Linked DNA regions of Homo sapiens. Each later gene encodes a partner of the first gene's protein in a complex. Each region holds a gene or a part of one and is shown on either strand. Other genes may lie near its edges.

Evidence for each region. The genes of interacting proteins can lie anywhere in the genome.
Region 2: THOC1 (region 1) and THOC3 share a complex: the UniProt entries of both Homo sapiens proteins name them as parts of the transcription/export (TREX) complex.

Annotation. Positions count from the first base shown.
Region 1 is NC_000018.10:226,261-230,444, forward strand, and holds part of THOC1 (THO complex subunit 1), read right to left. Parts: intron 642-4,184; coding exon 541-641; intron 1-540. UniProt on the Homo sapiens protein: Component of the THO subcomplex of the TREX complex which is thought to couple mRNA transcription, processing and nuclear export, and which specifically associates with spliced mRNA and not with unspliced pre-mRNA.
Region 2 is NC_000005.10:175,962,174-175,965,315, forward strand, and holds part of THOC3 (THO complex subunit 3), read right to left. Parts: intron 2,983-3,142; coding exon 2,778-2,982; intron 1-2,777. UniProt on the Homo sapiens protein: Component of the THO subcomplex of the TREX complex which is thought to couple mRNA transcription, processing and nuclear export, and which specifically associates with spliced mRNA and not with unspliced pre-mRNA.

The DNA of each region.
Region 1 (4,184 bases):
AAATACCGTTAAGTAACAGTGGGCTCCACCTTCAGTTATGGACAGGATAGGAGGAAATGGATGGAAGTATTTAGATAGACAGTAGAGAGCCTAATGAGGTTTTGTGAAACCCCAAATAAATGAACTCCTTTTTGCTTAAAAATTTTCTTTGCATCTTTTAGCTTGAATGTCCTGCAGAGCTCCACACCTTGTGAGATATGTATTACTGGCTTAGTCTGCAAATCAGCTTTGGAGGAGGTCTGAGGGAGGTGAGAAGGGAATGACGGAATTTTGGAGCAGAGACCTCCACCTGCTAATAAAGACGACAACTCCTGGCAAGCCCTGGAGTTGGGCAGGAAAAACTCACACTGACAGATATATTTAACATCTTTTCCTTAAATATCCTAATATCGAAAAGCCTTCAATGTATCAGCTGCAATACATGTGTTTTAGGGATACAGCCTTAACATGAAATGGACACATACATAAGAAAAATCGTAAGCAAGTCCTTTTTTTTCTTGGCTACTGTTTACAAATTGTTTACTACCCATATTATCTTACCTTTTGAATTTGACCTGCCCCTTGAGATATTGGAATAAAATGAGATACTGCAACAGGATGTGTCGACGAAAGTTACTGTCACTCAGTTGTAAATCCATCAGCTACTCAAGAAACAAGCAAACACATACGAAAACAACACATTAAAATCAAGTTTTTCCTAAAGGTACAAAATGTGCTAATATAGAAATGGAAGATTCCAATTCAATTTAAAAGCCATTTGTTGAGAGTTCACTGCATGTGAGGCATTACCGCACAAGCCCAAAGACAGCCCAGTCAAGGTTTCACTTAGATTTCTTGACTGTTTTATGCCATGACACATTCTTGCTGGTGGATAACAATGATCTATCTATGGTCCAGACATGAGGATAAAATAAAGCAGAAATAGAAAAAAGTAAGCTGGGCATGGTGGCACAAAGCCTATTATAGTCCCAGCTACTCAGGAAGCTGAGAAGGAGGATCACTTGAGCTCAGGAGTTCGAGATCAGTCTGAGCAACATAGCAAGACTCTAAATTTAAAAAAAAAATTTTTTTTTAAAGTAAAACTGAGGCTACTACTTTCTCACATATGAAGAAATAATGGCTAAAGAAGATACGGATAACAGCACAATATCAACGGGGACCACTCATTTTTGTAGCCCTATAAAGTGCCTGCAACAGAGGTATTACTTGACAATAAACAAGAAATTAGAGGTGAAGATCATCTCTGATTAGATGGGCTTTTTTTTTTAGCTTTTAGTGAAAATTGCATCATACTTGTATTATCACAGAATCTGGATTAGAAAGGACTTGAAGGTCACTCATGAGGAAGTTCTTCAACGACCCTGCCATCCAGCTGTAAGAATAACCTGCGGCGATGAAGGAAGGTCATTCTGATTATGTGCATGGAACACTGAAGGAAGGCTGAAGTCTGTATCCACAAACTCATGCTAGTTCTGCCTTCAAAAACTACAGTAACAAAGGAAAGCCACGTTCTTCTAAATGAATCGCCAGTAAGGCAGCTGGAAGCGTCGAAGATTGGTTTTGGTTCAATGTCCCAAGTGCTGGTGGCTCTGCTTTACGTGGTTGGTACCATTTACTAATGCTACCTAACACGCACAAGCCTCCCTATTCACTAGCAACCCCTTCCACACTGTGGCTCCAGGTCTTAAAAAAAAAAATTAATGATCAGCCTTCCAGTCAGGTTTCCCTCACGTTTAAGGATTGAATATATTTGATTGTTATTTATATTAACTCTCCTATCCCAAATTGGAAATGTGAATGGCCGGCCATCAGCCTTCCCTTCCTCCAGCCCCTGGGCAACTTGACTGTCTCCACTCAGGCTGTTAGTTCCTTGCCCTTAACTCCACGGACAGGCCCATCTCTGCTCCAGCTACCCACTACTGTGGCCACAGCTAGACCTGGGGTCACTCACAGCTGCCCCAGATCTGAAGTCTTCAACTCACAATCCTATCTCACCACAACCTCTATCCTTCCCAGGTCTCTCGCTCAGTTGCTTCCAATATACCTAATATTTGGATCTTACCGAGACTTTAAGGCCCTTGACCCGTCTATTCTCTGCCTGTTAGTCCCATCCCATTTTATTATAATCCTATTTTAGTCTAGATAAGGGGTCAGCAAACTTTTTCCTGAAGTGTCAAATAGTAAGTATTTTTATTAATAGGTTATGTGGGCTAAGAGACATATTATGGATATTATGTAGGTATTTAAACATCTAAAATGTAAGGGGGAAAAAAAAACCAAAATCACCAAAAACAACCAACACAGGTGGTGGGCCAGATTTGGCCTATAGGCTATAGTCTGCCAACTCCTGGTCTAGACTTCATGGTTAATCTCTTCGGCCATTTTCTTGCCAACTTCAACACACTTGTCCCATATTTCTTCTGTCATGTCTAGTGAGCAAACAGCAACCTTGAATAAACCAACTGTTAGTCACCTTCTCTATACCAACCCTCAGGATTCCAATCTCAGCTGAAAGTGAGGTGCCTGAGTGAATACCCCAAATTACACAGCTATGCAGAAGGCACCACTGGTATGTTGTCACCACCTTAAACATCTGTTTTTAATCAGCAATCTTTCTTTATTCTTCAAGGCCATTCTCTCTCCTACTCTTCACAGTAATGATTTTCAACCCTTTCCACTTAGCAAAAATACTACTTTACCACCCCTTCTCACTTTCAGTAGATAACTACTTTTGCCTTCAATGAGAAGAAAAATTAAATTGGAAAGCATTTCATTTCTTGGCCCCCAAAATGACAAATCAGCTGCACCTACACCTTTGTTTACTTCATTTCCTTCTGTCACAACTCCTTCACGGCTAAAGGTATTCCATCTGGATTACCTTCCATCTGGAATCCCAATATCCCTAACAATTGAGTTCCATCAACTAACTGCCCTGGTTTCTGTATCTACAACCTATTCTTTCCAAGCTCCTTTCCATAAGCATTAAATAAGCTCCCTCAAAAATCTCCCACATTCTCACCTAACCCTTTAACAGCAAAGCTTCTTAAAATAATTGACTATAGGCACTGTTGCCAATCAGCTCCTCAACCTGCTATCATCTGACCGCCTCATCCACTAATCCATTGAAAGTGTTTTTGTCGGCTGGGTGTGGTGGTTCACGCCTGTAATCCCAGCACTTTGGGAGGCTGAGGCGGGCGGATCACAAGATCAGGAGTTCGAGACCAGCCTGGCCAACATGGTGAAACCCCGTCTCTATTTAAAAAAAAAAAAAATTAGCGGGGCGTGGTGGTGCATGCCCTGTAATTCCAGCTACTCTGGAGGCTGAGGCAGGAGAATAGCTTAAACCTGGGAGGCGGAGGTTGCAATGAGTCCAGACCATGCCACTGCACTCCAGCCTGGGCAGCAGAGCAACAATCGGTCTTGGGGCGGGGGAAGAAAGTGTTTTGTCAAGATCACCAATGACTTATTTGTTGTTAAATCCTGTGAACACTCTTTACTGTCCTCATCCTACTTGATATGCTTGGCTTCCATGAGTGCATGCTTTTCTAGTTTTTCTCTAATCTCACAGGTTACTCTTCAATCTTCTCCTCTTCTCCCTTCATTCTCCCTTAAACATGGGTTTTCTTCGGGATTTCAGTATTTTCTTCTCTTCTGAATCTACACTCTCCCCTTTAGCTCATTTCATACACTCTACAGTTTGAATTACCATTTATAAACTGGTAACTCCTACAACTATACTCTCAACCTAGATCTTGTTCCTAGTCTCCAGCTTTGTACACTAGACAACCTATCACACATCTCTACCTGAATGTTCAACTGACACCTGATCAGATTTCATGAACAAAGTAAAACATCAATTTCCTCCACAAAAGCTGTTCTCCAGCATTGGCTAATTCAATGAGAGGCTCCAACATCCATTTGCCCAAGCAACTCTAGGAAGGCTTCCTGGAGAAAGCAGCATCTAAACTCTCAACAAGGAACAAACCTAAAGGTGGAGAGTGGGGGTTGGGGGATGGGGGTGCAAGAAGGGGAGCCAAATAAGAGACTGGCCTATTTGAAGGACCGAAGTACACAGTTCAATACATCTGGAGTAGAGATGTGAACCCCTAGCTTAAAGAGACGAACCAAAGTGGCTAGGTGATGCTTACTAGCTGTTCATTTTATTTTTTTATGTTGAAAGATTT
Region 2 (3,142 bases), on another chromosome or scaffold:
AGCAGCAGTAATATTGTTGTTCTGAGACATCTATATGTTTACCATGGGAGATAGGTAATAAGTAACCATCGGATATTCTAATTCTATGATCCCCTGTGCCCTTGAGAACCAGAATACTCAATTTGGGAGGAAAGAAATATATTTGTAATATAGAAGAGGTTTAGTAAAATCCCTGGAGTCCTCAATTTTGATTGCAAGTTATCAACATGAATTCATAAGGTATTTTATCTTTAAATATATATATATATACACACACACACACACACACACGTAATTCCTAGGCCAACCCAGCAGTAATGAACATTCCTAACTTCAGTATCATTTCTCAGTAAAAGAATGTAAGGCTCCTTTTTTTTTTTTTTTTTTGAGGTGGAATCTCACTCAGTCGTCCAGAATGCTGGAGTGCAGTGGTGCAATCTAAACTTACTACAACCTCCGCCTCCCGGGTTCAAGCGATTCTCCTGCCTCAGTCTGCCAAGCAGCTGGGAATATACACGTGCGTCACCACGCCCAGATAATTTTTGTATTTTGAGTAGAGACAGGGTTTCTCTATGATTGCCAGGTCTCAAGTGATCCACTCGCCTCGGCCTCCCAAAGTGCCAAAGTGCTGGGATTACAGGCGTGAGCCACCGCACCCAGCCAGAATGTTAAGGCTTCTTGGAGAATGTTCTGATTAAAGGTCTGGGGCAAGAAATGCACAAGATGAACTTGGAACATCTTATCAAACCAGAGAGCAAAAAAACAGAAGACGATGGGATTATGTCAAAAAAGGTCTCAGGAACCAACTTGAAGAGGTTCTTATTGGCCAAAGATGGGATAATTTGAGCTTCAACAGGCGTAACAATTACAAGAGATGGAAACACACCAACTATGTTTAAAAACATCAGCCCGTAATGATTCTTTAAAAAAAAAACACCTAACTGCTCATCTTTGGAGGTAGCAGGAAACAAAATCATTATCTGACAAACAGAATCAAAATTTTATCCTGCCTTCCCTACATGAACTACACTACTGGGTAACCAAATCGCAGATGAGAAGCAGCATCTCTTTACACAACAGTCCAACACATAAACAGCATATGGAATCAGCAAAAGCCAAACTGGGAGAATCTCCACAGGTTAACAGTCTGGTTTTTCAACAGCTACGTTTTCGGAAGTTTCTTTTGAGTAATTTAAGAGATACAAAAGACATATCAATTTTTTTTTTTTTTAATGAGCAAAACTAGGGTATCTAGGGGCTGCACATGTGGTAGATAAACTATGAAGAAACACTATAAAAGTCAGGATAGTGTTTGCTTTTGTGGAAGGAAGTTGTAATTAGGACAAATCACCTGGATGGACTTCTGGGATGGCTGGAAAGAACTACTTCTCAACTTGGGCGGGGTTGCACAAGAGTTAAGCCTATAAGAGTTCATTAAGCTATACATTTATTTTATGTGGTTTTCAATATCTGTGTTTTATAATAAAAAGATTTTTCTTAAAAAGTTATAGAATCCCCATTGCCTACAAAATAAAACCCAAGATACTAAGCATAAAATAAAGGCCTTTTATAATCTGGTCCCAAATTAGACTTCATCTTCCCATTATCATGCCCTCTCTTATTTCCCTTATCTGCCACCACTCCCCCAACAACCCTGACCTAACCACTCTCCAAGTAAGTCATGCTCACTCACACCTGCTTTGTCAGTTATGTGGTTCCCTTTTGCTTATTCTTAAAATTCTGCTCATCTTTCAAGATCAAGCTCACAAGCTCCCTCCTTCAACCCCCCATATAGTATGTCTGTTCTTTCCGTGGAATTTCACAGCAAACTCCTGGCCTCCCACTCACAGAACCTATCTCACTTGGTCTTGCATTGTTCACCTGGGATAGTGGAAGGCTAGAATTGAACAGACCTGAATTTCAGCTCCACAGTTTCATTCATTTACAGAACAAATATTTACTAAGATCCTACTACGTGGAGCAGGTACAGGACTAGACATTAGGGACTCAACACTAAACAAGGCAAACACCATCCCTACCATCAAGGAATTCACAGTCTAACAGGAGACACAGGCAAATAAACATGCAATTACAATATAGAAAGAAAAGTGCTTCCTACAGAAAGTATATAAAATACGCCTCTAACCTACCTCTAACCTTGGGGTAGCGGGGGAGCTTCCCTGAAGGCAAAGTGATATTTCAGTTGAAACTTTAAGAGTACGAATTAGCCAGAGGTCGGGCTAATCACCTGAGGTCGGGAGTTGGAGACCAGCCTGACCAACATGGAGAAACCCTAAACTACAAAAAATACAAAATTAGCCAGGTGTGGTGGCACATGCCTCTAATCCCAGCTACTTGGGAGGCTGAGGCAGGAGAATCGCTTAACCTCGGAGGCAGAGGTTGCGGTGAGCCAAGATCACACCATTGCACTGCAGCCTGGGCAACAAGAGCAAAACTCTGTCTCGAAAAACAAAAAAAAAGGGAGTACGAATTAGCCATAATTCAAGGTGCATCCAGTTCTAGCACACACTAGCTGACTACTGATGTAACCTCTCACCCTCAGATCCTCATCTGTCAAATGAGAAGCAAATCATCAACCCCTAGAATTTCTGTAAGGACTCAGTAAAATATAAAGTATATAAAATATACAGCTCAAATGTACTTAAGACAGGTTAGGATTCTCTCTTACTATTTGTGTTTTAAGCTCCTTCAGGATAGGCTCACATCTAATTCATCTCCATATCTGACACAGCACCCAGCACAAAGACATGACAGTCCCCTAAGCTAGACCCCCTCACCTGAGGATGTTGATACAACCATTGCCATTTGTCAGGAAGAACATATTATTGTCATTGTTCCAGGAGATTTCGTTGACCTCGAACTTGAACTGCTCTTCTGCTTTGGAACGGTGTGTCTTGGCATCAATAAAGGTCACCACATCATCCTTGTTGCCTACAGCAATGGTCTGCCCATCAGGACTCCAGCAGATATTAATGTTCTCCCCTGGGAACCCAGACATAATCAGCAAGATAATCTGTTTGCTCATAATCTTCCACAAGTTTATTGCACTATCCTAGAAAGAAGACCAGAGCTTTCTTCCGGGCTTACTCATTAAAGTCCTAGACAATGGAAGGGAGCTACCACTTATGATTCAACAATAAGT